Homo sapiens: one gene and its partners. The protein of the gene in region 7 interacts with the protein of the main gene of each other region in a biochemical or structural test. Each region holds a gene or a part of one and is shown on either strand. Other genes may lie near its edges.

Region 1 (3,500 bases), on a different chromosome or scaffold from region 7:
ATCAATCTCTAGTAAAAATCAGAGCTTCTGAGAGAAATAGTTGATTCTAGGTCAGGGGAAAAGGAGATACAAGATGGGTCTAGAATATCTTGTTGTGTTCTAGAAAGTAAGAACCTACTCAATAAAATGATAGGAGCCATGTCAAAAGGACATGGGGGCCCACTTACAGGGGTTCCTGCAGGCCAAGTCTCAGGAAATTTGAGCATCAATATAATTGATAGTAACAGACTATAAACCATTCAGTAAAACACGAAGTCATGTACCCATGTTGACAATAAATAAGGGCAGCTTTTTCCCTACCATAAAATGCTTTCAGAGAAACATATAAGGAGTGATGGAATTAGAAAAATCATCATTTTTTCAACCATTATAGGAAAAATTAATTCAGGTAAGACTCATCAACAGATACTAAATTTGTGCCATGCAAGTAAGAAAACAGGGTATTTTCATGATATCAAAGCATCTCTCCACAATTACGTATCACAAAGGAAAATAATTTTGTAGTGAAAAAGACTAGTGGACACTACCTCAGACAAGTGACAAAAGTTAATCTCACAAACAATGAGACAAACCAGTTTCATGTACCTTCTGATGTGGTGCACTGAGAAGGACACAGCATCACTTATGTAATTTTCCTACCAAAAATGCACAATCTATTTATCAACATGAGGAAACATCAGAAAAACCCAAATTCAGGGACATCCTATAAAAGGCTGAGGAACTATTCTAGATTAAGGAAGACTAAAAAGACATGACAACTATTCTAGATTATAAAGAAGACTAAAAAGACATAAATGAAATACAGGATCCTAAATTGGACCTGTATGAGGGGAAAATAATGAACACAATTAGGACGCTGATAAGACTACAATGTGAACTATAGATTAGTTTAAAAGTATTATATCAATATTAGACTGTATGAATTTCATAATTGTACTGTAGTTATATGTAAGAGAATATCCTTGTTCTTAGTAATTACACTCTGAAGTACTAAGGGGTAAAGAGTATATATATATATATGTGTGTGTATGAGACAGAACAAAAAACTCAAACATGGCAAATGGTAAAAATTGGAGATTTGGATAAATGATTTATGGGAGTTCTTTGTATTATTATTGCAATCTTTATGTAAGTTTGAAATTATCCTCTCCCAATTTTTAAAAAATTTCATCAACCATGTATACAGTATAATGTGCATCTCTCTTCTAAGTTGAACTATATGTTGGCAGTTTAGATTATGCCTTGCTTTCTCCTTTGCTAACATGCCCTATATCTCCACAGGGCTAGTGACTAGTACTCTGAGTCAGGCACATGTTTGACAAAGCATTTTTTAAAAAATAGAAAGACAAGCTCTGAATGTCAGAGGCTAAGATTTTAAAAATCCACACACGTTTGTGAAACTTCCAAGCCCTTCTCTGCTGCCTGTGCCTCATGTCCTGAGCTTCCCTTGGATAATCCCATATGACTTTCCCAGTCACAGATTTTCCATTTGGTCACTCACTCAACCTTCAGCACAGTCATATCTTTTGCAGAGCTAAAAATAGCCATTCTATCAAGTGGGTAGCGAAAGTCCCATTTACAGTTAAGAAGATAACTTCCCTAAGATTATTTAATGGTGACAATGCATCAGCAAATCAAGATTTGGACAAAATAAAGGCACAAAATATTCCCTGTTGCATGAAATCTATCATTAATTCTTAATCGAGTGAATAGAAGTGCCAGCTCTGAAGTCAGACCTCATAGATCCAAATCCTGAATGTGTCCAGCTGTATAACTTTGGGCAAGCTACTTAACCTTCCTGAGCCTGTTTCCACATCTGTAAAATAAGGTTGGAAATAGTACCTATCCATGGATCTCATAGGCATCTTTTTGAGCAAAAGAAGCCGAAAATAGTGGAGTATATAATATATGATTATATGAAGTTCATGGCAATAGATGCCAGAATAATGGCTACTTTGCGGGGAAAGATTATTGACTGGGAAGGGGCACAAATGAGCCTTCTGAGTGGCAGAAATGCAATTTATCCTGATCTGGGTGATGGTTAAACAGGGATAAGTATGTAAACATTCATTAAGCTGTACATTAAAAATGTCTTATACTGCAACAAAAAAATAAATACAAAGAAAAAACATAATACCAACCAAATAGAATTGTGAGAATTAAGTGAGAAATTGTATGCAAAGTGCCTAGTACATGCATTCAATATAAGTCTGTTACTATTATAACTATTACAATAATAGAGTTGTTATTTTTAAGAGATGAGACTACCTTTCTCCTCAGTTCTTAGTTTCACACCATTTCAAACTTTTATCTTGCCTTTGAAGCTCTATATCGCTCTCTTTGTATTTGAATAAAGGAATTACAGTTGGCCCTGGGTATCCATGGGGGATTGGTTCCAGGACACACCATCAATACTAAAATTCCACTGATGTTCAAGTCCCTGGTATAAAATGGTGTAGTATTTGCATATAACCTATCCACATCCTTCTATATACTTTAAATCATCTCTAGATTATAATACCTAACACAATGGCAATGCTACATAAGCAGTTGTACTGTATTGTTTAGGAAATAATGACAAGTAAAAAGGCCATACATGTTCAGTACAGATGCCATTTTTTCAACTACCTTTAATCTGTGGTTGGTTGAATCCACTAATACAGAACCTACAGATACAGAGATCCAACTTTATATACTTCCTAAAATTTTGAAGGGCATTTTTAAAGAAGTAAATAAGGCAGTCAAAACTAGGAACAGTTGGAAAATAACACTAATTCAATGGAAATAAGCCAGAAATTCATCAGATGTTAAAACCTACAGACATGGAAAAGCTTATATGGATAATGAGTAGGCACCAGGGTTAGACTTTCCTTTCAGTTAGTTCTAAATTCTAGGGGAAGTTTAAACTAAAGGGAAGAAATTAAGAAAATAGTAAACACAAACTGACATCTGAACATTTTTAAAATGAAAGTGAAACATTACCAATTCATGCATCCTTGCTGAGCGGGCTCTCACTCTGAAGATCATTTCTAACTTTCTTTGGCCTGGTAGATTTTCTTAAATGTTATCCTCAATTAGGTTACACTGTTATTTTTTAAAACTTACCTTTATAAAAGCATAGCCAACACCATTATCTGTAATGGTGAGACCAAGTGAATCCTCAGATTTATACACATTCACTTCTTTTTCGATTCCTTTCACATGGGCAAATATGAAATCTTCTAGTCCTAGTTGTCCTCCTAAGAGTCTTTCCATGTCAATTTTAGGTGTGTTTAAAGTGCAATATAAGATCTGCAAAGAAAAATAAAATGTCAGGTCCATTTCCACTTGGAATACATCTGACCGTTAATTTATTTATAAACATTTATTGACTGAAATACTCCTCAATTTATGATGTAAAGAGTTACATCATAAAATGTGTTTTTATGTTGGCTAGAGAGATTCTGGGACACATTTTCAGACAGTAGCATTAGGTAACATGTATTGAGGGTTTCCTGTAG
Region 2 (3,500 bases), on a different chromosome or scaffold from region 7:
AATGCTATCAAAGGGTATTACATGCTACAGATAAATATTGCATGAAAGAAAGAGTCAATCAATGCAGCATACTACTTCATTGTTGTCTGATTTTAAGAAATTGCCACACCCCTCCAACCTTCAGTAACCACTACCCCAATCTGTCAGCAGCCATCAACATTGAGGCAAGACTCTCTACCGGCAAAAAAAGATTATGACTCCCTGAAGGCTCAGATGACTGCTAGCATTTTTTTTTTAGCAATAAACTGTTTTTTAATTAAGTAAATTTTTAGACATAATGCTTTGCTTTTGCACACTTAGTAGACTAAAGTATAATGCAAACATAAATTTTGTATGCACCGGGAAACCAAAAAATTCAAGTGACTGGCTTGATTGCAATATTCACTCTATTGTGGTAGTCTGGAACCAATCCTGCAAAATCTCTGAGGTATGCCTGAGTATCTTTAGTGACTGCTTCTTGAGCACCTGTAGGAAACTGTGCTAACACCTTAGAATTAAAACAAAATCACAAAACATGACTCCTGTCCGGCAGAAGATTAAAGTAAAATTTATGAAGCAGATATAATGGAAGAAAAAAAAAGAAATTCCAAACATCATACAAAGTGAAAAAGAACAACAGAGAGAATTAGGAACTGCTTTATTGTGGGGTTGGGTTGAACTTGCCTCTCCAGGCTTCAGAGAAGATTTAGGAGGAAGGAACAGGAGGTGATCCCAAATGTTGTCAATGGAGACCACAGAGGATGGATGTTTCTGATGTGCTTAGAAATGATTTGACTTTAGAAAACTAGTAAATCATGGTAGGTAAAGTCAAAAACAAAGGTAGGAAACAGGTAATGAATGACCTTAAGTTTCAGAATAAGTAGTTTCAATTTGTGTTTTAAAGGCAGTAGGAAGCCACTAAGGGTTTGAAAAGGAGAGAAGAAAATAAATATATGCAACACAGCATTCTAAGAAAGTCATGTTCCAAGTCCAAATGAAAGAAGTATTTAATACTTCTATAATATTTTTAAGAGGCAGTATATAAAATGAACAGGAAAACTAATTAAAAAGTGAGAACGCTAATAAAGTTTGCACTTTTGTCTTAAAGACTGAAGGGAAAAATTCACAAAATATACTCCTTAATGAAAATGAGAAAAGGCAATCAAAAACACTGAGTCTATTTTCTTTGACCAAATAAAAGTTGAGACTAGTGTTCTTGGACCTATTAACTGGATTTTGTCATCTATGCACACTGCTTTATAGTTACTTTAAATATCAATAGCATTGTGGATTGATGAAGAAAACTAATAGTGCACATTACACTTTTTAATACCATATCATCTAGTGATTTATTATTGTTCGCATCAAATTAATGTTGCTTCTTCATTTAAAACAAACTTCCGAAAGTGAATTTTTAGAAAAACATAAAAGATAACAGTATAATCCATTATTCTCTGCATTCATTGATGCAGTAGCAAAAGTTCCTTTTCCTATTATTGTCACTACAAAACCTATGAGTCCAATAAAGCAAATTTCTTAAACTGTGTTTTTATATATTACATGTCATGGTAGGCATCTTTCAAATGATAATTTATCATTGTTCTGGTTCCACTGAAATTTAATTATCTCAATGCCACAAATACAGATCACTGCAATGGTGTAAGAAAAGCTTTTTTATTTTTTTAATAGCAGTCAAGTTGATGTTTTAGCTTAAAACTAATAAAAAATAAGAGTATCTAAAAGACAGAAAATTCTCTAAAAATATGTCTACTTTACCTGTCCACATTGTGACATACATATTTTATTCATAAGTAAAAAGATTAAACATCATTTGAAATCAAGAACATAAATATTTGACAAAATGACATGTTCTTAGTCTCAAAAGGGTGACAACATTTTCTTTGAACATTCTGTCAAAAATAATTATGGGAAATGATTGTATTAAGCTTAAGAAACATAATTTATTATAAAATACAAATAAGGTAAGCATAATTTTTTAAATTCTATATAATTAACACAATTATATTTATTTGAAAAAAGGTATAAGAAGGCTGGAATTAATATGGGTAGATTAGATATTTAATAAAAATTATCTATACTTATGGACTTAAAAGAAAAAAGACATGTATAAATGTGGATGCCATGAAAAAAGAACAGCTTTATTTTATTATCATAATATACTATGTGAAGGGTCCAGGATGAGTAATTAAAATCCAAGTGCATCATAAATAAGATGTTTTCCTCTAATTGAAGTCCTTTATAAATTCAATATCACCATCAGATACAATTTTTGACAGTGACTTAAGAATTCTACTAGCTTAAATTGTTATTCATCTGTTTCCCCAATGCTCCTGTATTCTAACCAGTATTATCAGATGGCAAAATAAAGCAATATTATACTTGATAGTTCTATCTTAGGTGCATTTTAGGAATCTTTTCACACTTATTTGGGGTCAGATTTACTCCTGCTGTTTTATTTTCCTAATAAGTTTTTGAAATGCTTCCTGTTTCTGCCCTAAAACAAAACACTCGTCAGTAGTACAACACTAATTATTCTACTGTTTCTTCTGTATTTATATTTTTGGAAAAAACATTCCCTATTTAGCCTTTTTCAGCTGGAAGATAAAAAATATTTTTTCTACAGAAAACTAGCTTATCTTCAAAGTTCCAATACTGTGTATCTAAATGCTTTCTAGACATTTCCTCTTTATACTTTAAATAACATATTTGAATGGATGGATGAAGAAAATTTGTGGTATATATGCAAAGTAGAATACCATTCATCCATAAAAAAGATGAAATTCTGTCATTTGCAGCAACATAGTCAGTGTTAAATGAAATAAGCCACAGAAAAACAACATAGTCAGTGTTAAGAGAAATAAGCCACAGAAAAACAAATATCATGTTTTCATTCAAATGTGTGAGCTAAAATAATTGATCTCATGGAGATAGTAGGCAGAATGTTACCAGAGGCTGGGAAGGGTGATGAGGAGGGGAAGATGGAGAGAAACTGGTTTATTAGTAACCAAAATACAGTTACACAGAAGAAATAAATTCCAGTGCTTCAAAGCACAGTAGGGCAACTATGCTTAACAAGACTTCATTGTATATTTCAAAATAGCTGGAAAAGAACATTTGGGATATTCCTAACACAAAGAAATTATAAATGTTTGGGGTAATGGCTACCTCAATTACCCTGATTGATCATTACATATTTTATGCATGTATCAAAATATCACATGTACCTCATAAAATGCACAACTATTATATATCAATAAACTTAATTAATTAGAAAGTCAACATTTATTAAAAATACATATATACCTGGACCCACATATCATCTCTTTTTTTTTTACTACCCAACAGCCCCTCTTTCCTGCCTGGAAAATTGTCTCCCCATTCTGACTTGTTTTGATGAAACAACATTTTTTTTTTATTTTTGTAATCACACAGTTTGAAACCCTAAAGCTGTGTTAAACTTCTTTTTCAATTCCCAAATCAATAATCAAGTCTCATTTTCT
Region 3 (3,500 bases), on a different chromosome or scaffold from region 7:
TGCATGTGATGGCTTTAAATATTTGTTCCATCTTTAATAAGAAATACTACAGAAGACAGACTTTGACTTAGACTGAAGGAAAAAAGGATAATTAAATTCTTTGTTAAAATAAACCCACATATCTGACTATCAAAGACAATAACCACCACCACCATCAACTCCTTGCCAATGTCATGAAAGGAACTTCACAGAAACCCAGTAAGATGTGAGTTGCAGTCCTTCTGGTATCACAAATGTAGCATTTAAAGCAGTGTTTTTCAAACTGTGGGTCAGGACCCATTAACAAGTCAATTTAGTGACAAGTATTTTTTTTAACAAAAAAGAATAGAACATTACATAGAGTATAAGCAAGTGCTGTTTTAATTATATGTGTGTGGGGTGGTACTGGGGGATATTTATATATATACTAGGTCAGGAAATTAACTATATTTCTTATGGGTAATAGTCAAACAAGATTAAAAGCTACTAATCTAGAGTAAGTCACTTAAACTCTATGAAACTGTTTTCTCATCTCTTAAATAGAAATTACCATTCAACTTCAAAGGGTAGACTCAGATAAAATAATTTCACTTTTTAAGTAAAACATTGTATTACTGTGTTACGGTTACAGCCTTTTAGAAGGGTTTCATTAGAGTTTAATGTTCCTCTGATGTATATATTCACAGCATGAAGTCACTGTGATAGAAACATAGACATATTGTATCAAACATAACTCAGAAAATGTTGTCTCCTTTTGGAAAAGAATAGAGCTAGAGATAGGAAATCCTAAATTTCTTGAAATTTGTATAATCTCCCTCGTACTAGCTACCATAACAGCCTCTAAAATAAAAAAAAAAAAACAAAAAAAAACAAGATCATAGAGGAAGAGCAGCATCTCTATGTGGCTTCAGGGGCCTTGTGAAGAACTGTCACTTAGGGGAATGACCAAAAGAGGGGAACATTTTTATAGACCATTCCCATAGGAGGCCAGATCAAGAACATAAGCTGCTATCCCACTGTCTGTATGGCCCTTCGGTGGTATTTTACTGGGAGGTATAAATCATTTCTCTTCTATTCCCACTTAAAGTTTAGAATCCTGTGTCAGGCTCTAAATGTCACAAACAATTCCAAGCAGAACATTATTATTTAGCTTTACATGCTATGTAGATACATCATAGGACCACTAATAGAAAACACTTTAAGAAACTGTTAGCTAAGAAACTACAAAAAACTAAGAGTAAAGGAAACACATCCTTATTACGCTCTATCACACACATACGCTATGATTAAAGCATCTTTCTAAGGAGAAAGACACCTAACTATCCTGTATGAATACGAGAAGGTGCATCTTCTTCCACCAACATAGAAGGGGCTTTAAAAAGGAACATGATTCCTACCCAGATGAGTTCAAAAACTCCTTCAAGAAAAATAGAATACAGGAATTTATGTGATGACTGAGTGATACTCGCACCACACAATTTATTTTTTAAATGACACTGTGACTTCAGATCAGCTTGTTCTGAGTTTTGTTTCTTATAAGGTTCATGGATTTTCTGCACCGATCAATCCAGCCCGTGTTCTCCTGTCAAGCTTAACTAAGCTCACACATGTAAAACATCTGGCTAGGTTTGAGGGGTGCAGCCTTCAGCTCAGGAAGATGCCATGACTCATCTGTGAATCTGTGCATAAAAGCCTGTTGGACAAATGAACGCAAAAACAATCTGCAAAGGTCTTAGCTTTCTCCATGAATAATTCCCACCACTTTAAGGCGGGGTGGGGAGGGGGGAGGAATGGGGGGGTGTGCTAACAGATGAGGACATGCAGGAGGTAGAGGTAATCTGAGGAAATTGGTGAGTATGCGATCAAGAATGCTTTAGTCACCATTCTGTGCGATAGATCACTAAAGCATGTTCCCCCTGTCTCACCAAAACTTTGTACACTTTGATCATCATCTCCACTTTCCCCAACCACCCTCTTCCCCCAGACTCTGGCAACCATCACTTTAATCTCTATATTTATGAAGTAAACTTCTTTAGATTGCACATGTAAGCAAGATCATGCAGTACTTATCTTTCTGTGCCAGACTTACACTTACTTCATTTACTATAATACCCTCCACATTACTGAAAATGACAGGATTTTCCCCTTTTTCAAGACTATATAATATTCCATTGTGTATAGATACTACATTCTCTTTACCCATTCATCTGATGATGGACACTTAGGTTGCTTTCATATCTCAGACATTTTGAGAACTGCTTCAATGAACATGGGATAGCAGATATTTCTTCAGCATACTGATTTCAATTCCTGTGAATATATACCAAGCAGTGGAATTGTTGGATCATATGGTAATTCTATTTTTAGTTCATTGAAGGTCCTCCATGCTGTTTTACATAACAGCTGTATTAATTTACATTCCCACTAACATGTGCACAGCGTTCCCTTTTCTCTGCACTCTCACCAATACTTGTTACCTTTCATTGTTTTTATACAGCCATTCTAACAGATGGGAGGTGATATCCACAGAATGGAGATACAATAAATAACAATGCATTGTATACTTCAAAAGTGCTAGAATGGATTTTAAATGTTTTTTACACCACAAAAATGGTAATTATATGAGGTGTAATTTGTTAATAGCCTGATTAATCACTCCAACTGTAAACGTACATCAAAATATCACACTGTACACCATAAATATATACAGCTGGGTGAGAAGGTGCATGTCAGTAATCCCAGTTACTCAGGAGGCTGAGGTGGGAGTATTGCTTGAGGCGATCAACCAGGAGCTTGAGGCTACAGGCTATAGTGCACTATGATGGCGCCTATGAATAGCCACTGCACTCCAGCCTGGGCAACAGAGCAAAACCCTGTCTCTAAATTAAAAAAAAAAAAATGAAAACTTAAAAAATATATTATTATTATTTGTCAAGGAAAATACATTTAAAAAACAAACAAAATGCTTCAGTCACTGCCCATGGAGCTCCTACTAGCCAGAGAGAATCAAACAAATTGAGAAAGAGAGGAACCAGCACCTCAGTTCTGGCAGCTTGCCAGGTAGCGTTTGCTTACCTCTGATCTTACTTAAAAACCAAGTGAGATATGTCACAACAAAAGTGTCTCTGTCATAGCAGTCTCAACACAATGAAGATGTTTTTCTAACCAAAGAACACAGTTAGTTGGAAGAGCTCTACAAAATTAGTACCAGGGAAGGCTTTAGTTAACACTTGCCCCAGACGCTGGGACCCAGAAAGGCTAAGTGATTTACCTAAGGTTACACAGCTGGCAGCAGTGTCTAGCCCAGAATCAAGAGCTAACTAGAATCTCCTAAGGTGAAATTGCCTATCACTGTGCCTCTTAACATGATTTCTAAAAGACAAGGTTCCCTGTTCCTCAGAACTATAACTTCATCACTATACCTTTTCCTAAAATCAGAACACTTATGACTGACTTTTCGTTGTTTTAATGAATTTAATCATTCATTAAATGGGACGGTGCCTATACATCAGTTACGAAAA
Region 4 (3,954 bases), about 35 Mb from region 7:
ACAGAGCGAGACTGCATCTCAAAAAAAAAAAAAATGTGCCCAGGGTCCATTATAGGCCTGCACTCGTAGAAATACGAGGGTTGAGATTTCAAATGCTCATCTGCAGGGGAGACAACATATCACACGTGTCCAGGTTACAGTCAGATATGTCATTCTGGAACACTATGCGGGTGCTCAAATACAGACTCCTAAATTGCTCTGACAACAGTAGCAATTCTAGTCCCTTAAATGGCTTGTAGTCATCGTGAAGGCTGAAGACCCACTTCCCCGGTCCTTCTGATTGTAAACCAATGTTTTCCTAAAATTCCCTAGCATTAATTATTTTAATGGTTTGTGGAATTATTTAATGGTTTGTGGAAGCACTTGGGAAACAGGCTGACAATGGAAACTTTGTATTTGAAAAATATTGTAATATCTGTAGAGGTTCTACTCAGGAATACTTTCCATGCTTCCATACTTTCTCTGATTTAGGAGAAAGTTTCTCAAGAGAATGATACTCTCAACAGAAACGGAAAGTTTCTCAACAGAAAGCCTCCATTATTTTTGTGGTAGGTATGAGAAGAATAGGTTGAAATAAAAGGGGAGATGAAAACTTAAGGACTTTAAGTTTTGTTTGAAAAGAAGATCATAATTTAAGTCTGGGTTCTAAACTACGGCCGTTAAAAAAAAAAGAAAAAAAAATCAAGAAAATTCCACTCTTTAACTTGGGGGAAATTTTTGTGAGGTTCTCTTCGTGGGAAGCAGGGATTCGGCCATGGAGGGCAAGTGACTTGCTGATTTCAGTACCCAGAAGGTTTTTTTAAATATGAAATTTGTCCACTATGAGATGAATGTGTATATACTACCCATTCTCTTCTTGAAGTGTCAATGAAAAGTCGGATTTTAAAAGCTAATGGTATCAGTGCTGCAAAGGCAGGCCAATTACTGCCAGTGCCAGACAACTTTTTTCTTTGTTTATTTTTAATCTTATTTCTTTGCTTCTTTTTGATAAAAGATATACCTAAAGAGGCACCTACACATAACCCTGGCACCGTCCGCCGCCCCAAGAACCTTCCTGCTTTACCAATGGCCTGGGAGTTGGCAAACACGCTAACAAAAAAAAAAACCAAAAAAACAAAAAAAAAAAAACAAAACGGGCTTTCGCCTCAACCTCATAGTTCCTCCCCGTCTGCAACCACCGGTCTTCACCGGATTCACAGTCGGAACCGCGAGCAAAGACACCTAGTAGAGCCGGCCGATTCCTAGGTCCTCCGGCCAGGAGGCGCTGCGGGCCAGTCTCCGGGGGCCACCGCAGCCCGCGCGCCCAGCACCCCCACCCTCACGGCAGAGCCCAGCCCAGCCCCGCGGCGGAGCTCCGAGTTCTGCGCCGCCCGCCGGGGTTACTCCCGGTCATTCCACGGCACCACCTCGGCCCAGCTTCCCCATCTGCGCCCAGGCAGAAGCTGCCCCGAGAGACCAGCAGCAACGGTCTGGAAGATGGGGCTGCAGGGAACGTGGGAGAGGGAGGATTGGGCACCCCACCTCCGGGTCTCCGCAGGCTCTCCTAAGTCTTGTTTTTAAAAGAAACAAAACTCGGCCGCGCGCGGTGGCTCACGCCTATAATCCCAGCACTTGGGGAGGCCGAGGCCGGTGGATCACCTGAGGTCGAGGGTTCGAGACCAGCCTGGCCAACAAGTTGAAACCCCGTCTCTACTAAAAATACAAAAATTAGCTGGATGTGGTGACGCGCCTGTAATCCCAGCTACTCAGGAGGCTGAGGCAGGAGAATCGCTTGAACCCGGGAGGCGGAGGTTGCAGTGAGCGGAGATCGTTCCATTGCACTCCAGCCTGGGCGACAGACCGAGACTTAAAGGAAAGAAAAAAAAGAAAAAGAAAAGGAAACAAAACTCGTCCGCGCTCTGCGCCAGGGACACCAGCTCAGCTGAGCGCACGGAGACTGTAGGCAGGACCTCCCTACCCCTCAGGTCAAACAAAGACCCAAGGCCTCTAGTGAGCAATAGCACCACGGACCGTTTGGGACACCTCCAACTCGAGTTCCCGGATTCACAGTCCGGGACTGTGCCGCTCCAGTCCCGGGGAGCATATAGCCAATTCCCAGGTCAGAACAGACCAGCTTCTTAAGAACCGAGTGAAGACTCAGTGCTGGCATTTGTCTCCGTAGGTACTGGCCGACCTGCAACCAGAAGGGTTTCTAGCCAGCTCAGGGCCCTCCGAACAAAGCAGCGCTCGGTGCCGGACCTGCAGCTCTCCCCACCCGGCAGCAGCGCCCTCAGCACGCCCGGGAACCCCCGACCCCTCTGAGCCCGGGGTACTGCGCCCGGGTCTCCACGCCCAGAGATGCTCCCCGGTCTCCACCGTCGGGCAAGCCCCAAGCGCAGCAGCGCAGAGTCCTGGGGTCACCAGAGCTCGTACTAGGACATCGTCTCCCCATTTAACACCGCCTCCGGTCCCATCTGAGTTGCAAGTGGTGGGGATGTGGGGCTCCGGATCAAAGTCCCCGAAACCGAGCACTTCCCGAAGCCTCCTTGGCCTCGAAACAAAACAATAACGCCCAAGTAAGTCACTGGAGAGCCTCTTACCTGTTTTCCACTTTTGTGTTTGCGTCTCTTTCTCCTACCCCTTGACAAGCCTTCCGGAGAAGGGGAGAAAACAGAACCGGGGAAAAAACAAGGAGCAAAGCGCCCTGAGAACCGGCTCTGTTGGTGCGCGGAGCTCCCCGCCCTGCCCTGCCGCAGCCCGGGAGAGAAGGGTCGGCTCGGCTCTGCGGGTCCCGGCCCCACTCACTCTCGCTCGCAATTACGGGGTTTTTGCCGGGACTAGTTCCTTTTATAGATTCGGCTGCACCGAGCGCAGAGGTTACTATCGGTCAAAGCCTGTGCTCTCCCTCCTCCCCGCCCCGTTCCCGGCCTCTGTTTATGTAGTTCAGTCACTCAGCAGAAAGCACGTGGAGCCGGGGCCCGCCCCTTAAACGGGCGACGTTCAGCCGCCCACGACACATCTAGGGAGTTGGGGGGAGGTGGGTGGGGTGGGGGTGGAGGGTACAGCAGGTGTCTTAGGGTCCGCGGTCTGCGTCCCCTTCCCCCGCCCGGGCCCGCCGGCCTAAGACGCGCGGGAAGCGCTGGGCTCGGGGCTGCGCCGCAGACTCTCTAGTCCACGTTCCCGGCAGCCAAGGGCACCAGTGGAATTTGCTTCCTCTAAATCCTGCTTTCCGCAATTTTTTTTTCCTTTGTTAGTTTCCTCAGCCGGAGGGAGGGATTGGGGGAGAGAGAGCTCTAGGCTGAATCTCCCTCAGGACGCCAATCATTTTGTCTTGTCTTTTGTTTCCTTTCAAAGGCCTAGGCTGGGGTGAGGGGAAGGCGGACAGTCCTCTGGGTAATGGGCTGCTTTTGTTTTCCCCCCACAAACCTGGACTTTGATTTTTGATAGGCGACCTACTGCCTTGGAGATTCCCAGCCTGAGCTCCCCAGGTCCCTCAGAGGACCCGAGAGGAACATCTTACTGCTTCTCTTCATAAATTGAGAGGAAGGAGGCCACAAAAACAAAAAAAGAAACAAACAAACAAAAACACAGAACAATATGGACCAGCCCCCTTTTAATTTCATTATATTGATCAGCCTCCCTGTGATAAAAACACAGGACTTGTATTTAGTTTGTATACATTTGTGAAGTGCAGCCAGAGAATTGCAGTCGTGTAAAATTATGTAGCCACTCCAGACCTCCAACTTATCTGTTTGCCTTTGGCTGTAGGGGAGCAAAACTACCCAAAACACTGGAGGGGCAAAAAAAAAGGCAAGAGTAGGAATGCAGGCCTACACACCATATGTCTAAATATTTAAGTCATCCATCAAGCCAACAAACTAAATGTCACCTTATTCTGGCCAAAACTCAGGTCAAACTGTGAAGAGTCTAAATATGAATCTGCCCTGAAGGGCAGATTCATAGAAGACTCAGGAC
Region 5 (3,500 bases), on a different chromosome or scaffold from region 7:
GGTGACCTCATCAGACACTTTCAACCTAGTAATTCCTTTCTTTAACCTAGCCATTTTATTTCTTGGAATTTACCCTAAGAAATAATCAGAGCCATGCATAAATATTTATGAATAAGAATGTTCATTGTAGGATTATGTATAATAATAAAAACGGAATACCTATGTGGAAATGTCTAAATAAACTATGGTATATCTATAGAATGGAATATTATATGCCCATTAAAATCATGTGCTCAAAGATTATCTAAAGACATGGGAAGATGCTTATGATACAATTAATGTTAAGGAAAAATCAAGATCAATATAGCATACAGAGTTTCTAATTCATTCAGGTACACACCTCACCTGAAAGGATTTGATGGACTCTATCAACAGAGAATTGTTTTCATTTCCCACCACTGTCACCTTCACCTCATCATCTGCCAGATTCAAGACTTGTAGGAAAACCTCCTGGGGACCTGGCTGGGCTGGGGCCATTTCCTTAGAGCAAAGAACACATGTCAGAATCACCAACAAATAATCCTTCAGATACAATGGCAACACATATCTCAGTTGTTTCTGACAGCCTAGTCCACTAGCCAAGTAGACATAGTTTTCTCCCTCTGAAAAATATTTGGCTTAGAAAACTCTAAAGGCAGCTTGGAGAGGGAAACATCAGCTCATTGTAGCAAGTACCAATGCCAGCTTACAAACTCGATGCTTTTTGACTCAGCTGTGGCCTCATCCGTAATAGTGGCTATTCAATCTGCCAAAAGGTTTTTACTTGAGTATGTAGAAAGGCATCACATAAGCCTGTGTTCCCTAAGGAGAGGGCTCTCTTGGATATTAGTGTTTGAGAATTCCCTGAAAATACATTCTGAGTCACTCAGGTGGGAGGTGGGCCTCATTTTGCATTGCTGTTTTACCCCTGTATCTACTTATTTATCACAAATACTTATGATGCACCTCTTATAAAACAGGTACTGTGCTAGGTCCCAGGGAATCATGACTGAACAAGTCAAAAGAGCAAATAAGAAAGATATGATCCTGCCCTCATAGAGCTTAAGAATTACTGAACTCACATTTATTTTTATCTCTACAGCTGCCGCAACTGCAAATGCCAGGCATGCTAGGATCATACCAACAGCCATTTTCCTAAGTGATCTGTGGTGGAAAGGAGAAACAATTATATCTAAACTTTAGACTCTAAAGGATGAAATCCAAACTCTGTAGCCTATTATTAAAGACTGCATTAGACTGTTCTTGCATTGCTGTAAAGAAATACCTGAGACTGGGTAATTTATAAAGAAAAGAAGTTTAATTGGCTTATGGTTCTGTAGCTTTACAGGAAGCACAGTGCTGGCATCTTCCAGCTTCTGGTGAAGCATCGAGGAGCTTTCAATCATGGGAGAAGCCAAAGGTGGAATAGGCATGTCACATGGTGAAAGCAGAAGCAAGCGAGGAGATGGGAGGTGCCACACACTTTTAAATGACCAGATCTTGTGAGAACTCATTCACTATCATGAAGATAGCACCACAGAATGGTGCTAAACCCTTCATGAGAATTCACTCCCATGATCCAGTCATGTCCCACCAGGCCCCACCTTTATCACTGGGAATTACATTTCAACATGAGATTTTGGCAGGGACAAATATTCAAACCATATCATTCCATCTCTAGCCCCCCAAAAATCTCATGTCCTTCTCACATTGCAAAATACAATTATATCTTCCCAATAGTTCCCCAAATTTTAACTCATTCCAGCACAAACTCAATCAAAAGTTCCAAGTCCAAAGTCTCATTTGAAATAAGGCAAGTCCCTTCCACCCATGAGCCTATAAAATCAAAACAACTTATTGACTCCCCAAATAAAATGGGGGTATAGATACTGGGTAAACATTCCCATTCCAAAAGGGAGAAACTGGCCAAAACAAATGGGCTACAGGCCCCAGGCAAGTCTGAAACACAGCAGGGCAGTTATTAAATCTTAAAGTTCCAGAATAATCTCCTTTGACTCCATGTCCCACATTCAGGGCACACCAATACAAGGGGTGGGCTCCCAAGGACTTGGATAGCTCCACCCTTGTGGCTTTGCAGAGTTCAGCCCCTGTGGCTGCTCTCACAGGTTGTTGAGTGCCCGTGGTTTTCCAGGCCCAGGGTGCAAGCTGCCAGTGGGTCTATCATTCTGGGGTCTGGAGGATGGTGGCCCCCTTCTCACAGCTGCACTAGGCAGTGTCCTTGTGGGGACTCTGTGTGGGAGCTCCAACCCCACATTTTACCTCCACACTGCCCTAGTAGAGGTACTCTCTGGGGGCTCCACCCCTGCAGCCGGTTTCTGCATGAACACCCACACTTTCTCATACAGCCTCTGAAATCTAGGTGAAGGGTGCCAAGCATTCTTCATTCTTGCACTCTGTATGCCTGCAGGCTTAACACCATGTAGAAGCCACCAAGGTTTATGGCTTGTACCCTCTGGAGAAACAGACATGTCACATGGTGAAAGCAGGAGCAAGTGAAGGGTAGGGAGATACTACATGCTTTTAAATGGTCAGATCCCACTAGAACTCACTATCATAAGGACAGCACCAACGGGATAGCACTAAACCATTTATGAGGAATTCATCCCCATGATCCGACTACCTCCCACCAGACCCCACCTCCAACATCCAACATTGGGGATTACATTTCAACATGAGATTTGAGTGGGTACAAATATTCAAACTGCATCAAAGACTTTTCCTGATTTGATCCCAATTACTTTCCTTTTTTAAATCCATGTTTCCATGACCAATTACTTTTCAAGGGATTTCCTAGAACTCCCCTTCATACATTCTTCTTTCTTCTTGTTCTTGAGTCACATTGAACTGCTCTTCTCTGTGATACACCACATTTACCCACCTCCATCTTTGCTTATGATGGTTTTTCTATTCGCTATGTCATAACACCAAAAATAATGGCAATACAATCAGGTTTATTGAACAAATGCCATATGCCAAGTGCTGTACATGCTTTACCTCACATTCCTCTGCAGAAATCTGTTGGCTTTGGCAGGGGAGGGACTTTTTCTTTTCTACCTCTCCTTGGCACTTGATCTTCCCTTCTTAGGACACTTATTTTACCTGTGTAGTAGTTGTATTTTATATATATATATATATATATATATATATATATATATATATATATATATATATATAGTCTAGCCCCTTTACTAAGTAATAAACTGTTTGAGGGAAATGTTGTTTTTTTTTTTGCTTGATTTATATTTTCATGACACTTGGTCCTAAACTTCCCAACATTTGCTCAATGAACAAATGACAAAGGGCCATTTTCATCTGGTAAAGTGGTCATCACAATGAAATTGCTATTAAATCAAGAATGAAAGAAGGCTTGAAACTTTCTTTTGCCAAACTCTAAAAAAGACTAGTCCTTCTATTTAGAAAAAATTTCAGGCAGTAATTGGGAATAATTCAGTCCCCAGTCCTACTAGGTTCCCCATTTGTTTTGTAGGGACAACAGGAGA
Region 6 (3,500 bases), on a different chromosome or scaffold from region 7:
CCAGCCTGGGCAACCTGAGTGAGACTCTGTCTCAAAAAAACAAAAAATAAATATAAGTTGACTACACAATAATAAAATGTGAACTTATAGAAACCAGACTCATGCTTACAGAAATCAAGACATCTTCCATTTACAAAGAGAATCAGAATCATAAACTGTCAACACTAAAGTTAATCCCAATTGAATAAAGGTCCTTTATATATACAAATATACAAATATAGCCGAGTCTATAAACATACATGTTTAAATATGTTGCTTGCACTTGTATAAAATGCTCAATTATGTCAATGAAAAGATAATCCCTTTACTCTGATAAATAATCTATTCACCTTTCTGCTTGCTTGACCTGTGTACCAGGTAAGGTATAAGTTGAATTGAAACAACAACAACAACAAAAAAAAACATACAAGAGTCAAAGAAAATTATTTATAATTCAGGTTTACTTCAAGATCATTTCTAGTGCTAAATGCTATTTTTTTAAGAAAAGAAAAATTCATGAAATGTAAAATATATCATGTTTCAAGGTATTTAGCACTTTGATAAAACATTTTCTAGAAAACAGATTTACAGCTGGAATCAGAAATAACATAGAAGTTCCTCACACCCAGAGTAACCTCAAACCATTTCTGGGAAATGTCTTTCACACTCGTCAGTAATTCCTTCCACCGTACTCTAAATATACTCCTTGATGTCAGTATTTATAATAATTACAATATAAAATAAGAACTAGCATGGTTTATTTCATAATTATCTGCTCAGACGTCAGATTCACTTAAAGACCTCATTAATAAAAACACTTGCTCCTGTACATTAATAACTGTTATTTTACCCCCCAAAAATTACAGGTTGAGTATCCCTAACCCAAGAATCCTAAATCCAAAATGCTCCAAAATCTAAAACTTTTCAAAGAAAATGCTCCTTGGAGGATTTCAGATTTTTGGATTAGGAATGATGAACTGGTAAGTGATAATGCAAATATTCCAAAATCTGAAAAAATCCAAAATCCAAAACATTTTTAGTCCCAAGCATCTCAGATAAGAGATAAGACTCAACCTGTAATTAGTGTTAACAACGGCAAATAACAGAAAACAACACTAGACTGGCATTAAAACTGAAAAGACATTCTTTGTGTCAATACTGTCACTTGCAATGACAAAAATGAAATTATCATGATTAATTCTAAATTTAAATAGAGTCTAACAATTACGACATGTAGTGGGAAACAGCGCTAGATTGCAAAGTAGGAAAATGTTCTTTCACTACTCACTGTGTATCCTTCGGCAAATGAAATCACTCTTTCTGGGCAGAGGGAATCTGCATCAACAGTCTCTCCAAGTTTTAAGGTCAAAGACTAACTGAACTGATTGACTTATAAAGTTGATTTAAAATTCCTATATACCAAACTCAATCCCATACATTTCACTTGGTAGTAACTTAATTTCCCTTTAAAATCAAAATTAGAACACATATCATCTCATATAATCAAAGGGAGCAAATTATGTTAAAAGTAAAAAAAAAAAAAAAACAAAAAACAAAAAAACACTTCATTTGAGCTTAATTATGCATAGCAAAAATGTAGAATAGTGTTTATGCATAAAGTTAACAACTGCCATACCATTAAAACTGCATAGTTACTAAGGGAGTAGCACTGAATCGTAGTGATATTTTCATCTGAATAGAGTATATGGCACCCATCTGACTTCCAGCCTCCTTGTCCGTTCAGCAAATCGAAATCCCACCGGGCTGCAACAGCATCTGCTCCATGTGCAATTCGACGCAGTGTCACATTAACAGGGATGTGGTGGGTATCTACATTCACACCATCTGGAGAAAATGGGAAATAAAAATATTTCTGAAACAAACTTCATAACCAATTATAAATGTCAACTTCTACAGTAATGGGTACTCTGCAAGATCTTTCTTCACTAGTGACTCATTAAAACGAGAAAACACTAAAATAAGCATTTTTAGGAACAGTCAACTACAAGGCCTTATTGTCCACTGACTACAGGATAACATATGCCACATACAAACCTATTTTGGTGAGAATCACAGGGGTAACCACAGTACGTCGTTTTCCATCATCAGCCAAATTTGTTGAATTTCCAGTGGCTGGAAAAAGCTTTCCATTGCGGAATGCAATGAGTTGAAGCTTGTAAAGAGAGTCATCAGTTGGTCTGAGTTCTCTTTTTTGCTTTGGTGAGAAAAGGGAAGGAGGAAGCTGAATAGAAGCCTCCACAATAGTATTCTGAAAAAATATATATACATAAAAAAAGCTCACTACATTAGTACATAGAAACCAGAAAAAAATATGTCAGATAGTTACAAAAGTGGTATAATTAGGTTGACTTCATTTTTTAAATTGGATATACAAAATTTAACAGTTAAAAAAATCATCAGTCAAGCGAAATGTCAACACCACATAACATAGATTAAAAGAAGTATAAAACAGAAATGCAAACTTTAAAGAGTTAAATAAGTAAACAAGAAAAGTGTTTCAAATTAACAAAGTTAATTTTCCCATGATATTATATGTTGAAGTAGATAGCATTAAACAGATCAAGGATCTCAATGATCAGGCTGTATCAATTTTACAATGATAAAATATGATAAAGAAGCACAAATGTAGCATATCATAAATATGAGTATAATTAATTTGGGCTTATGGAACTTTAAGGTGATTTATGATGAATTCAAACCTCCACACAACAAAAGAATGAAATTATACAAACATAATAGAGGTTTAGATTCAGTACACTTAGCAGAAATTTCCTTGAGACTAGGAAACACATTTAGAAAAAAAAAATAATAACACATAGGAACAACTGAAAATGCTGACTGATCACTGAATTTTTTCAGATTTCTTTATTGAGGATTTTTAAATAACAAATTATTCAGCATTCAGTAAAAAATATATATATACCAAAGAAGTGAACAATTAACCATCTAAAAACATTCCATAGTTGAAGAATTTATTGTACAATCTTTTTCTTGGCTTCTAACCTCTCTTCTTCTAATTCCATATTCACCGGAATTTCCCCTTAAGAAACAAATCGAATCATGTTATTCCAGTTTAAATAACACCTTGGTTTTGCAATGTTTAATACTAAGCCCAAATCCTAAGTTCACCATATAATTTGATGAAAATCTATTGCTCAGATGTATCCCCTGAATGCTCCTATAGCACAACCTAAAACACAGCTACACTGAGTTATCAATTTAAGTTCTCCTATATTCTTTTTATGCCACCATGCTCACTGCACAGACCAGCATCTCTACCTGAAATGCTCCACTATTCTTTCATCTCACAAACTTTTGAATTGGTGTAACGGAAAGTGGATTAGAATGAAAAACGTTGGCAGCCAGGGGGAAGACTTTATACAGAGTCCTTGAAACAGGGCTTTTTTGGACAGTTAATTGCATCTCCTCAGTATATTGCATCTTCAGATTAGCTGCTTCCTCTTCTGGACTCACACAACACTCTGCACACATTAGTCATA
Region 7 (3,500 bases):
CTTGGATTTCTGAGCTGCCATTTTATTGGAGGTGCCAATTAAATAAAGGGTCATTTGGTCCCCATGACAACAGTGGAACGGTACAGCAAATTAAGAAATCTGGTGGGAGGGGAAGCCCAGAGAAGAGGGGCGAAGAGAGAAAAGAGAAGCCAGAATGGTCTCTATAGCAACGGGAGAGCAGAACCATGATGCTCCTGGGGAAGCAAGGGAAGCTGTGCGCTATTCTAAAACAGAGCAAAAACCCAGAGGGCAGGACCACAGAGGCAAAGGCACAGAAAGAGGCAGCCTGTAAAATGTTCCACCCACCAATAATTATGCCTTGGGAATTAATTATGACCCAAAAAATAAGGTAGGAAGAGTAAGGCAAGTCAATACCTATAATTCTACTCTAGAAATTGATTTCCTGTAACCTGGGGGGACAATAGTCAACCAGTATTGAAGTGGCCAGATGCAGAATGCACACTTTGGATCCCTGTTCCTGAAAGTGTAGCCTGCAGACTGGTGATGCCATCCCCGCCGCAAAGCCTGCCAAAAATGCAGAATTCCACCCTATACCTGCTGAATCAGACCTGCATTCTAACAAGATCCCCAGGTGATTCCAATCAGTTTGAGAAGCACTGATTCATCAGGATGAGAGTTGCTTGTCAAAGTCACTGCAAAGAGCATGGACATACACTGAAACAAATTTGAACACAGCCTTGAAGTGGTCCAGATGCTGCTCTGCAGTGGCCCGAGGGGTGGGGGTAGGGCAGTGTGCACATCTGTCCAGGTGCAGGCAAAAAGGGGTGTGTTTTCTAGAGAATTTTAAAAAGGTGATACGACCCACTGATGTCAGTCTGTATTTGGTACTGGTGATTCTGGCTGTTATCAGTGGTTACACCTCCCACCAGCCAGGGTGGTCCACGGACGGACCATCACATTTCCCCATTCAACAAGCGGCGCACTGTGGCAGGGAGGAAGTTCAGCTGTGCTCTAATCGGGGTCTGCCCTGCTAAGTACTTCTTCACTATGGGTGGCCACGAAAGCACTGCTTTTCTTTTCTTACTCTTCATCTTCATCAGTTACATCTCTTTTATCACCACTCGGCCTTTTAATTTTCTGGTTCTATAGAGATTACATTTATAGACATCAAAGTTCAGCTCCTCAAACAATCCATTTCCCCTTAGGAAACTGTGCAGACAGAGCTCCGTCTGTACTCCAGCAAGCTTTGCTTCCACCTTGATGCTGTGGCAGCTGCAGAGGGAGTCAGGCTGCCCTCATAGCCTCACTGCTTCCCTCCTCTGGTCCCCACGCAGATAAGGAAGGAGCGATTCGCAGGAGGGTGGGGACTCACTGGCCAGCTGGGGGCCCTGGGCAAGTCTCCTGTGCCTTTAGAGTCTCTGATGGCCCATCTGTGCACCTAGCATCTGCTGTCCCCCTTGTGGGCTGTCCTGAGGAGGAAAGGAGGTGACTCCAGGCCATGAGCTGGAGTCTTAAGGGCCTCAGGAAGCGCGGCTTGTTCCTGCCCAGGCCCCATCCCCACCTTTACTTAAGTCCTCCCCTTGTCTGAGTCTGTTCTTAGTCTGCCATGACAAAGTACCACAGACTAGGTGGCTTATAAACAACAGGCATTTATCCCTCACAGTTCTGGAGGCTGGAAGTCTGAGCTCAGCGTACCAGCACTGTCAGGTTCTGGCAAGAGCCCCTTCTGAGTTGCAGATGGCCAACTTCTAGCATCTTCACATACCAAAAGAGAGCTTGCTGGGGTCCCTTTTTTAAGGGCACTAATCCCAACCATGAGGGCTCCACCCTCCTGCTAATCACTTCCTAAAGGCTCCACCTCCAAATAACATCACATTGGGATTAGGGTTTCAATATGTATTTGGAGGGAACACAAATATTACTCAATACTTTACTTAACCCCCTATCCCCGCTCCTCCTCCCCAACCCTTCTAGACTCAGACCAACTCCCCACAAACCATCCCTAACCAGCTTCCCTCTCTCATCGATTTCTCTCTCTTGCATCTGAACTCCTATGCCGCTCAGGCAGTTTCTCAACCTCAGCACTACCTACATTTGGGGCTGGATAACTCTGTGCTGTGGGGCTGTCCTGTGCATTGTAGGATGTTTGACAGTATCCCTGGCCTCTACCCACTGGATGCTGGCAGCACCTTCTCCTCCGTGACAACCCAAACAGTCTCCATACATTTTGGGGGATGAAGATCACCCCTGGCTGAGAAGTACTGCCCCATGGTCTGGCCTTGGGCCTAGCATTTCACCTGACACCCTCCCTGGGATGACTCTGTATTGGAGGCTGTATGACCACAGACGATTACATCATCTTGCTGTGCCTCAGCTTCCTAGCTTGTACAATGGGTACAAAATAGTACCTGCCCACAGAATGCTGCCCCGAAGGCTCAGCAAGTCAGTCCACACATATTCTCAGAGCATCCAGAGCACAGACACACAGCACTGAGCACTGTGAGCCATAAGTCCTTTCACTTCTCCTCAAACCGACCAAGCTCCCTGGGGGGCAGGGACTGTGTCCACGGGGCCCCTGGGTCCCACAGCCCCTCAGCAGTTCTCATGCATGCACCCAAGGTGTTTAATAAGCAACTTGCTCACTGGCAGGAGCGACTTGTGGTCCTGCCTCCCTAGCCCCACCCCCCCGCTTGCCTCTCCATGCAATCACAGCAACACCAGACCAGCCGTTCCGGGCCAGGCTCAGACCCCATCTCTCCCTGACTCAACACCGGCCCCTGTCCATCAATTCAAGCAGAAACTTCCAAACGCCACTTCCCTTTCTGCTACCTACCTAGGTTTTATTCCTTCAAGGTCAACTTTAAAATCACATAAAATTGTCCATCTAATCACTTGTAGCCTCTCACCTTTATGTTGGCCGCAGAGCCCTTGCACGTCTCTAATTATCCTGCACATGCACACTGGCAAGCCAGCTTCCTCAGAGCGCAGCTCAGTGCCTCACAGAGGCCCAATTAAACCTTTCTGAATGAATATCCATGTTCAAAGTTGATTCTCTAATCTTACCTTTAACGTGTATTAAGCAAGAGGTAGAATTTATTTAAGTATAAGATATAAGAAAAAGAAATTAAAGGAGGCCAAAGAGGACTATTTCTTTCCAGATGTGATTATCTTATGTGAAATTAGAATTTACTCCATTTCATTAAAAACAAAAAGTCACCATCCATGTGTCCTATACACTCACCTTCACCTCCCACCCCCACCCCCTTAGCTGAGGAGGCTGGCTTTGTGATTTTTCTTTTGCTCACAATGACTATTTGCACGAATTAATCCCCTTCCTTCTCCCTCTCTCTCACACATGCACATACGCACACAGCTATGTTCCAGCTAAGTCTTTCAGGAAACCCCTACAGGACCCCAAAAAACGCTGTGGAATCTCAGTCTAGCTACAGTACCGCAGCACTTGGTGCAGAGCTACTGGGGTCTACAGATGCCATCATGGAGGAGGAACATCCTGGTCACACTGGCCATGCATTCAGCAA

What was found.
Region 1: the proteins of APBA1 (region 7) and GIPC2 interact in a test that uses a peptide from one of them, tested with the Homo sapiens proteins (one large-scale study listed by IntAct).
Region 2: the proteins of APBA1 (region 7) and KCNT2 interact in a test that uses a peptide from one of them, tested with the Homo sapiens proteins (one large-scale study listed by IntAct).
Region 3: the proteins of APBA1 (region 7) and DOCK4 interact in a test that uses a peptide from one of them, tested with the Homo sapiens proteins (one large-scale study listed by IntAct).
Region 4: the proteins of APBA1 (region 7) and ABCA1 interact in a test that uses a peptide from one of them, tested with the Homo sapiens proteins (one large-scale study listed by IntAct).
Region 5: the proteins of APBA1 (region 7) and SLC15A2 interact in a test that uses a peptide from one of them, tested with the Homo sapiens proteins (one large-scale study listed by IntAct).
Region 6: the proteins of APBA1 (region 7) and ADGRA3 interact in a test that uses a peptide from one of them, tested with the Homo sapiens proteins (one large-scale study listed by IntAct).

The regions. Positions count from the first base shown.
Region 1 is NC_000001.11:78,080,466-78,083,965, reverse strand, and holds part of GIPC2 (PDZ domain-containing protein GIPC2), read right to left. Parts: intron 3,292-3,500; coding exon 3,106-3,291; intron 1-3,105.
Region 2 is NC_000001.11:196,230,941-196,234,440, forward strand, and holds part of KCNT2 (potassium channel subfamily T member 2), read right to left. Parts: intron 1-3,500. UniProt on the Homo sapiens protein: Sodium-activated and chloride-activated potassium channel. Produces rapidly activating outward rectifier K(+) currents. Contributes to regulate neuronal excitability.
Region 3 is NC_000007.14:112,199,900-112,203,399, forward strand, and holds part of DOCK4 (dedicator of cytokinesis protein 4), read right to left. Parts: intron 1-3,500. UniProt on the Homo sapiens protein: Functions as a guanine nucleotide exchange factor (GEF) that promotes the exchange of GDP to GTP, converting inactive GDP-bound small GTPases into their active GTP-bound form. Involved in regulation of adherens junction between cells.
Region 4 is NC_000009.12:104,925,356-104,929,309, forward strand, and holds the start of ABCA1 (phospholipid-transporting ATPase ABCA1), read right to left. Parts: upstream 2,801-3,954; 5' UTR 2,580-2,800; intron 2,556-2,579; exon of another isoform or gene 1,434-2,555; intron 1-1,433. UniProt on the Homo sapiens protein: Catalyzes the translocation of specific phospholipids from the cytoplasmic to the extracellular/lumenal leaflet of membrane coupled to the hydrolysis of ATP.
Region 5 is NC_000003.12:121,925,401-121,928,900, reverse strand, and holds part of SLC15A2 (solute carrier family 15 member 2), read right to left. Parts: intron 1,144-3,500; coding exon 1,062-1,143; intron 481-1,061; coding exon 346-480; intron 1-345. UniProt on the Homo sapiens protein: Proton-coupled amino-acid transporter that transports oligopeptides of 2 to 4 amino acids with a preference for dipeptides. Transports neutral and anionic dipeptides with a proton to peptide stoichiometry of 2:1 or 3:1.
Region 6 is NC_000004.12:22,411,567-22,415,066, forward strand, and holds part of ADGRA3 (adhesion G protein-coupled receptor A3 precursor), read right to left. Parts: intron 2,249-3,500; coding exon 2,035-2,248; intron 1,825-2,034; coding exon 1,616-1,824; intron 1-1,615. UniProt on the Homo sapiens protein: Orphan receptor that may have a role in planar cell polarity pathway.
Region 7 is NC_000009.12:69,445,372-69,448,871, forward strand, and holds part of APBA1 (amyloid-beta A4 precursor protein-binding family A member 1), read right to left. Parts: intron 1-3,500. UniProt on the Homo sapiens protein: Putative function in synaptic vesicle exocytosis by binding to Munc18-1, an essential component of the synaptic vesicle exocytotic machinery. May modulate processing of the amyloid-beta precursor protein (APP) and hence formation of APP-beta.